2 separate regions of the Homo sapiens genome follow, and region 1 is linked to region 2. Evidence: fine-mapped expression QTL. A gene starts in region 2. The other region holds a variant in brackets. All regions are shown on one strand. Distances are from middle to middle. Region 1 overlaps PKD1 (polycystin 1, transient receptor potential channel interacting). Region 2 holds the start of NTHL1 (nth like DNA glycosylase 1).

What was found. PIP is the estimated chance that this variant, and not a neighbour inherited with it, causes the effect. A credible set is the group of variants that fine-mapping cannot tell apart.
Region 1: its variant is the best candidate, but not a certain one, in a credible set for the expression of NTHL1 in whole blood (INTERVAL, PIP 0.61).

What each region holds. Positions count from the first base shown.
Region 1 is chr16:2,095,711-2,100,086 of GRCh38, forward strand. It overlaps PKD1 (polycystin 1, transient receptor potential channel interacting), which reads right to left. Exons shown (of 46, transcript NM_001009944.3): 29 at 4,151-4,361; 30 at 3,934-4,060; 31 at 2,158-2,274; 32 at 2,018-2,070; 33 at 1,609-1,793; 34 at 1,438-1,531. Among named protein-coding and RNA genes, the nearest start is that of PKD1-AS1, 6.5 kb to the left of the region's middle. The variant T/C (reference allele first, on the strand shown) is at 2,826.
Region 2 is chr16:2,045,227-2,049,569 of GRCh38, forward strand. It overlaps NTHL1 (nth like DNA glycosylase 1), which reads right to left and starts at 2,608. Exons shown (of 6, transcript NM_002528.7): 1 at 2,483-2,608; 2 at 902-1,140. The coding sequence starts at 2,597. It overlaps TSC2 (TSC complex subunit 2), which reads left to right and starts at 2,759. Exons shown (of 42, transcript NM_000548.5): 1 at 2,759-2,839; 2 at 3,361-3,527. The coding sequence starts at 3,390. RefSeq lists enhancers at 2,012-2,511, 2,103-2,162, 2,613-2,702 and a silencer at 2,793-3,022.

The sequences.
Region 1 (4,376 bases), 51 kb after region 2:
CCGAAGCACTGTCCGAGCAAGGGACGGCCAAGGGTTGAGGAAGCCGGGAGGGTGAGGGCCACGCGCTCTGTGTGGATGCGGAGTCTGAGCTGCCGTCAGAAATCCCCGCGGAAGCACTGAATCTGGATTTCACAGAGCTTTGGGCCGGAGATACCTGGGGCTGGTCAGCATGTAGTGACTACCCCTGGATTTCCCCATACTCTGTATTTTTAAAACCAACCAGCAATTTATTCATAAAGATGCCCTCATGTGATGGTTATCTGCCTTTTGTAAATCAGGAAGTTTTCCTTTTTGTTTGAGTCCAGGGGCAGTTCATACCTCTTTAGTTCTTGGTTGCTTAACAATGAGAAGCACTCAAAGGAATAACACACAAATCAAACTAGATGTGGATGCAAAAGCAGCAGTCACGCACCACTTAGTGCCAGGGATGTGTTCTGAGAAATGCGTCATTAGGTAATTCTGTTGCTGTGCAAATGTCACAGGGCGTAGTTACCCAAACCCAGACACCGCAGCCCCTGTGCATGCAGGCCCTGTGGTGTGGCCTGTGGCTCCGGGGCACCGCACCTGCACTGCATGCCACTGCACTGAATCCTGCAGGCAGCTGCAGTGCAACGGCAGGGCCGTGTGGACCTCAGCACACCTGAGCATAGGAGGGCATGGCAGAGCCCGGGGTCACACGCGTGGGAACACGCCGTGGGTGCGCTCCGCCGCCGGCTGCCATGTGCGTGACTATGTGCGTGACTACATACAAGGTAACCTCTATATGACCATTTGTTGATAAGTTACAAAACAACCAAGAAATTGAGGAATTTTTTTGTTTTTGAGACGGAGTTTCGCTCTTGTTGCCCAGGCTGGAGTGCAGTGGCGCGATCTCGGCTCACTACAACCTTCACCTACCAGGTTCAATCGATTCTCCTACCTCAGTCTCCCGAGTAACTGGGACTACAGGCGCCTGCCAGCATGCCCGGCTAATTTTTTGTATTTTTAGTAGAGACGGGGTTTCGCCATGTTGGCCAGGCTGGTCTCGAACTGCTGACCTCAGGTCATCTGCCCACCTCGGCCTCCCAAAGTGCTGGGATTACACGTGTGAGCCACCGCGCCCGGCCAAAAATGGGGTATTTAAAAACCCGCCCATAATTTCTCACTGCTCTGAGACCAAGATAAAAACGTGGCCCCGGCCAGCCTCACACAGGAGCCTTTCTGCTCCTACAAAGCCCCATGAGCCTGCTCCCTCCCTAGAGGGAAGGTTCTGGGGCCCTGGGGATCCCATGAGGCTCTTTCCACAGACAACAGAGGTTCAGAGAAGTGAAGTGGTGCAGCCACAGCCCTGCCCTGGCACCCCACCCCACCCTACCCCAGGCGGGAACCACGGCTGCCTGGCCTGAGTCCCGGCCCCTCCTCTGGCAATCCCCCCTCCCCCGAGAGCCGGACACTCACAGGCTGCTGAGCAGGTCCGTTTCCATGTGGGTGTCTTGGGTAGGGGCTGGGCTGCTGACCCCCTCGGCAAGGACCTGCTGGATCAGGTCTTCATCTAGAGGTACAGGAGGCATAGGGTGGGCCCAGCTGCAAGGGTGAGCTTCAGAGCCCCCTCCTCTCACCCCAGCTCACCTGATGCTGAGAAGGATTTGGCAGGCGAGTAGGGGCTGGCCAGGGAGAAGCCGTCCTCCTCTGGGCCCAGCCCATGGCCCGCCTGGCCCCGTGCCAGCTGCCGCAGATTGCTACCCACAATGGACGGGTCACTGAGCAGGTCCGGCCAACTGAGCGTTCCCTCGCCGGAGGGCCAGCACACCAGACTGCAGGTGGCGCGGGTCAGCAAGGTACCAGGGGATGTGTCACACACACAGCCCACCCCCGTCCAGTCACGCACGGACACCCTGGGCTTCCGAGCAAACCTGCTCCCGGGTGGTGTGACCACATGGAGCCACAGACACCCAGCAAGGACACGCAGCCCGCACACCCCCGGCACCCCAGACACAGTGACCTGCACCAGGGCTCGAGGTTTCTCTAGGGAACCCACCTCTTAGAATCATCCAGAAACAAGTCACTCTTCATCTGTCCAACAAAGGCCTGCTGAGAGGTGCACAGTGTCTTGAGTCCAAGCTGCGCCAAGGCGGCAGGACCCCCAGCCCAGCCCAGGACCCCCAGTAGAGTCCTCACCTCAGCGTGGAGGCCTGAGAACGTGAGGAAGGAGCTGTCCAGCACGGACGAGTCCAGGCAGCTGTCGATGTCCAGCACCTGCTGCCCGGCAGGTGTGGGGCTCGGGCTCCCAGCCACCTGCAGGACGAGGGCAGTGGTCAGCGGGCGGCAGCTCAGACCTGCTCAGGACAGGGATGAGAAGCCACCTCCTCAGCAGACAGGACAGAGCCCGGTGCCATCTGACAGAATGTCCTAGAATGCTGGATATATGGGACATCTGCACCGTCCGTGATGGCAGCCCCTCGCGACGTGTGCCACTGAACACTTGACAGCAGACTGGTGCAGCTAAGGAACAGAGTTTTAAATTTCATATTTTCTTTTTTAGATGGAGTCTCGCTGTCACCCAGGCTGGAGTGCAATGGCGCAATCTCAGCTCACTGCAACCTCCACCTCCCGCGTTCAGGCGATTGTCCTGGCTCAGCCTCCTGAGTAGCTGGGATTACAGGTGCCTGCCACCATGCCCAGCTAATTTTTTGTATTTTTAGTAGAGACGGGGTTTCACTGTGTTGGCCAGGCTGGTCTTGGAACTCCTGACCTCAAGTGATCTGCCCGCCTCCGCCTCCCAAAGTGCTGGGATTACAGGTGTGAGCCACCACACCCGGCCATCGTTCCATTTTAATTAACTTAAA[T/C]ACGAGCAGCCACATGTGGCCTCTGGTTCCTGCCACGGACTCGGGAGCAACCCCTCCTGGTCGCGGCTTATGCGCCTTCTCTGTGTGCTGCTGGGGTTAGTTTGCATGTAACCTCTTGAGGACCCCACGTGTGCATTCCTAAGGGGTGCGGCCTCCCGTTTCCGTATGAATGGGAAGCGTTCCCACCTGCTGTATTCTTGGAAAGAGTCTGTGAAGGATTGGTGTTAATTCTTCCTTAACTGCTTAGAAAAATTCTATCGTGAAGGCTCTGAGCCTGAGCTTTTCTTTGTGGGATTTTTTTTTTTTTTTTTTGGAGATGGAGTCTTGCTCCGTTGCCCAGGATGGAGTGCAGTGGCGCAATCTCGGCTCACTGCAAGCTCCGCCTCCTGGGTTCATGCCATTCTCCTGCCTCAGCCTCTCGAGTAGCTGGGACTACAGGCGCCCGCCACCATGCCCAGCTAAGTTTTTGTATTTGTAGTAGAGTCGGGGTTTCATTGTGTTGGCCAGGCTGGTCTCGAACTCCTGACCTCAAGTGATCTGCCCGCCTCGGCCTCCCAAAGTGCTGGGATTACAGGCGTGAGCCACCGCGCCTGGCCCTTTTTAATGTTTTATATAGATGGGGTCTTGCTATGTTGCCCAGGCTGGTCTCAAACTCCTGGACTCAGATCCGCCCACCTCGGCCACCTGAAGTGTTGGGATTACAGGCGTGAGCCACCACACCCGGCCCGGCCACTGGGACGTTTCTAAGGGACTAACTCAGCCTCTTCACTTCCTATAGATGTACTGAGATTTTCTTCTGGAGTGCATTTCGGAAGCGTGCACAGCCGCGTGCTTGCTTCTTCTGAGTTATCTGGCGTGCTGCTGTGCAGTCGTCCGTGGCGTCTGCTTAGCAAAGTGCCCTCGTTCTTTCACCATTCTGGCTTCTGAGTCTTCTCTCTTTCTCCCTGGTCAGTCTAGCTAAGGCTGCTCAAGTGTGTTGACCCTTCCCGAGCAGCCTTTGGTGGACGCCTTTCCCTCTGGCTGCAGCACTGGAAAGTGGCGGCCCTAGGCATGGTGCCGAGGCCCAGGCTCCATTCCCAGTACTCCCGGGTCCCCAGCCCCAGCCCACCTTGCTCCGGGACATCCGGAAGAGAAAAAGGATGGCCAGGTAGACGGGATAGACAACCACGCTGGACACCAGGCCAACAGCGACTGTGTCGACGCTCAGCGGGCTCAGCCTGGACACATGCCCCGTGCTGTGTGGAGGAGAGGAGGCCACACAGGTGAGGCTGAGGGGCAGGAAGGGCTGGGCAGGAAGAGGCTGCCCCGACCCCTACGGCACCCACCTGTAGGCAGAGTCGCCAACAGCCCCGTACCACACGGCGTTGGCGCCCAGGAAGAGGCAGATGAGGAGAACGCAGCAGGTGGCCCTCTGGATGCGAGTGAAACGGCTACGAGGCGGCCGGTCCCATATGGAGAGCCAGATGTGCTTGTCAAAGAAGCCACGCTGCAGCTCAGCCACCAGCAGGCGCCGGAAGCGCAAAAGGGCTGCGTCGCCTAGAAGGCAGGGAG
Region 2 (4,343 bases):
CTCGGGAGGCCGAGGCAGGAGAATAATTTGAACCTCGGAGGCGAAGGTTGCAGTGAGCTAAGATTTCACCACTGCACTCCAGCCTGGGCAACAAGAGCAAGACTTGGTCTCAAAAAAAAACCCAACACGATCGTATCTGGCCCATCACTACTGAACAGCCATTGGCCACTACTATTATGATTGCTTCGTGAATCATCACACTACCCTTTAAAACAAATTTTTTTTTTTGAGATGCAGTATCACTCTTTCACCCAGGCTGAAGTGTGGTGGTGCCATCTTGGCTCACTGCAACCTCCGCCTCCGGGGTTCAAGCGATTTTCCTGCCTCGCCCTCCTAAGTAGCTGGGGTTACAGGTGCCTGCCACCACACCTGGCTAATTTTTGTATTTTTAGTAGAGACGTGGTTTCGCCACATTGGCCAGGCTGGTCTCGAACTCCTGACCTCAGGTGATCCACCCGCCTTGGCCTCCCGAAGTGCTGGGATTACAGGCCTGAACCACCATGCCTGGCCCATACTACCCATTTTACAGACAAGCAAACTGAGGCTCAGAGAGGCCTGTATCCAAGCCACCTGGTAGCAGAATAGGGATTAGAACTCAGCTTGGTCTAAGGGTTTCAGGCCCTGGGACCGTGAAGCAAAAGGAACTCTTCCTTCCTGATATCACACAAAGCCCAGGTCACGCCTGCACTGGGCAGAAGTTCGAGCACGAGGCCCTAAACCACTGGTGTCCTGACCTGCTGAGTGGCTACAGTGATGCAGGCGATGCTCTGGGGCACCGGGTGTCCATCCTCCCAAGGTGCTGTCTGCAGGGGAGGGTGCCAGCCAAAAGCCACCGGGTAGAAAGAAAACAAGGACCTTGCTAAGATGGGGGGTCATCTGGGCAGATGGGGCCCCTGCCTACCTTTGGGGGGGCACTGGAGTCATAGCAGTGCTCAGTCCCCAGATGGTCCACAGGTGCATCCTTTTTGTTCCTCATGGCACGGATGTTGACCAGCTGTTGCTGCCAGTCCTGGGGCTCCCAGACTGGCACCTTGAGGGGCTCAGCCCCCTCACCTTTCTCACTGTCCGAGCCCTCATAGGCCACACGCAGTCTCTGTGCTTTCCGCGGACGCTTCACGGGGCTGTGGCTTTTCCTCGCTTCTGCAAAAAGCACCACGCAGTCCCTCTGGTGGGGCCACAGGTGAAGGTAGGGTAGGGGTGCCATCCCGCCTGCTAGCTCACCCCTCACTCGTTCATGCCACAACTGTCCATCATCTAATACACTTGGGGTGCTCTGCCCTCTGCAGTCTGGGGTATGTGGGCCCTCCTTATGCCAGCGACCCTGACAAGGTCCATGTTAGCTCATGAGGACTCTAGCAACAGCCTGTACCAAGGTGCCCCCAATACATCTTCTATACTGCACCAGAGACAGTCTGCTAACACCCACATCAGGTTGTGTCACTCCCTTTTAAAAAATCCTGGCCGGCCGGGCGCGGTGGATCAAGCCTGTAATCCCAGCACTTTGGGAGGCCGAGGTGGGTGGATCACTTGAGGTCAGGAGTTCAAGACCAGCCTGGCCAATATGGCAAAACCCCATCTCTACTAAAAATACAAAAGTTAGCCGGGTGTGGTGGCAGGGGCCTATAGTCTCAGCTACTTGGGAGGCTGAGGCAGGAGAACTGCTTGAACCTGGGGGGCGGAGGTTGCAGTGAGCTGAGATCACAACACTCCACTACAGCCTGGGTGACAGAGCAAGACCCGATCTCAAAACAAACAACAAAACCTCCTAATTGACTTCCGTTTACTGTCATAATAAACTCCAAACTCTATCCTGGCATCAAAGCTCCTGCCACCCTGGCTGGCATCACCACCTGCCTGCTCCCAGCTGCACCAGTTCCTCCTGACATAGTCTGGACTACCCCTGGGGTCCCTGGGTGCCTATGGGAATCCAGCTCTGGCCAATTCTGCAGAAGTCCCAGCGGGACTAGCGCAGAGGCCCTGTCCGTGTCCCTCACTGCTCACTGCAGTGCTTGGCCCCCAGCAGGTCCTCAACGGCTGCAGGATAAATATAATAAGTGCCATGCCCTTTCCTGTTTTCCCTCAGAGGCACCCTCCCCCGAGCTGGGGGAGCAGGCTTCTGGCTGCGTGTGTCCTTGGCACCCAGCCTCTCCGAGGACAGCAAGTTCACTGCAGGAGGGCGGGGATGGGACCCACAGAGCCTGGAGTGGAGAGTCCCGGACAGAGTGGTGGGAAAGGAAGCGTTTTCTTGCTTGGGGCGAAAGGGGGCAGCGGAGCGGAGCGCCCGAAACCCAGCCCCTGCGGACCGCAATCTTTGGGAAAAAGGCGCAAGGTGGGAACGCAGGGCCGCACGTGGGAACCGTTCGCGGCTGCCGGGTTTGCAGCCCCTGCCCGCGCAGCTGGGAGCCGCAGGAGGCGGCCCGGGACTCCAGCCTGCAGCCCCTATCCCGCCTCCTCCCACGCTCCAGCCACGGCGCGGCGCTACCTGCTGCAGCCTCTCTTCTCCGGAGAGGCCCGGGCTCCTCCCTACACCCCCGCGGCCCAGCCCCGGGTCCCAGGCTCCGGCTCCGGGTCAGCATCCTCGCGCTCAAGGCGGTCATGCCGGACTCCTGCGGACTACACATCCCGGCGGCCCATGCGGCCCCGTCACGTGATGCAAGGATCGCCGGCCTTTCCGCCAGAGGGCGGCACAGAACTACAACTCCCAGCAAGCTCCCAAGGCGGCCCTCCGCGCAATGCCGCTACCGGAAGTGCGGGTCGCGCTTCCGGCGGCGTCCCGGGGCCAGGGGGGTGCGCCTTTCTCCGCGTCGGGGCGGCCCGGAGCGCGGTGGCGCGGCGCGGGGTAAGTGGCGGTCCCCACGGGGCAAGTGGCGGTCCCCACGGGGCAGCGGCCTAGAGAGGCGGACCCCGCAGTGTCCGGGTCCCGGGCCCTCACCCGCGCCCACTGCAACCCGACTCCGGAGCTCCGAGCATCCCTTAGTTTTAAGTCATGGCGGGTGCGAACGGGTCTCTGCTGCAGGCGGCTCCGTGACAGCTCCTGCTTCACATGGGTAGAGGAGAGACGGCAAACGTCGGGGCTCCCAGGACTTCGCGGCGGCAGTCCTAACCCGTGCACTGAGTCGGGCGGGGCGGGCGGCAGCGTCTGAGTAGAGAGCTCTCTAGACCAGGCCTGGTGTCTCCCGGGCTTTCCTAGGTGCCTGTTTGCGAGCTGGTCAGCTGGGCTGTAGTTGAGTTCTCCCAGGGAGTGTGGGAGGAAAGGTTATGCCCACCAGAGACCCAGGGTCCTGACGGCTGGAGGTCCGCAGTGGGGAAGGTGGGCAGAGGTGTTGCTCAGATGTCCCCATTCCTGTTTCGTTTGCACAGAGGGGTTTTCTGGTGCGTCCTGGTCCACCATGGCCAAACCAACAAGCAAAGATTCAGGCTTGAAGGAGAAGTTTAAGATTCTGTTGGGACTGGGAACACCGAGGCCAAATCCCAGGTCTGCAGAGGGTAAACAGACGGAGTTTATCATCACCGCGGAAATACTGAGAGTGAGTGAGCTACCTGTGTCTTTGCTAGGCTAGAGGGAAATGCAGAGAAGGCTGGGTTTGGTCTTGCACCAGGTTCTGTGGGAGACGGGTTGCTGGCAACTGTCTACACAGGAATGCTGTCTCCAGTACTTGGAGGCCGACATGTCCTTCCTCAGGAGACTTCGAAAGTCAGGATCTTGGTGACCTGGTTCAGGCACACTTGAGTTACTATTCAGATGTTGATGAAAGAAAGCCCATCTTATAGATGAGGCCTGAGTATCATCATCTTCACAGGTAAGGATATGTCCAGGTGTTACATGATAAGATGTGAGTTCCTGGGAGAAGTAGGTTCTTTATTTTATTTTTTTTTTGAGACTGAGTCTTGCTCTGTTGCCTAGGCTGGAGTGCAGTGGCACAATCTCTGCTCGCTGCTACCTCTGCCTCCCAGTTTCAAGTGGTTCTCCTGCCTCAGCCTCCTGAGTAGCTGGGACTACAGACACGTGCCACCACACCCATTTAATTTTTGTATTTTTAGTAGAGATGGAGTTTCACTATCTTGGCCAGGCTGGTCTTGAACTGCTGACCTCAGGTGATCTGCCCGCTTTGGCCTCCCAAAGTGCTGGGATTACAGGCATGAGCCATCGCACATGGGCTAGGTCGTTATCTTTTATGTGTGTTTGTGTCTTTGTCACACATGCCTGGCATTGTGTTTTGCCCATGAGTAAATGCTGAATTTTTGCACTTGTAAAGTTTTCTACTTAGAAACAACTAAAACGTTCATCAACTGATGAATAAAATATAGTCCATCCTGGCTGGGTGCGGTGGCTCACGCCTGTC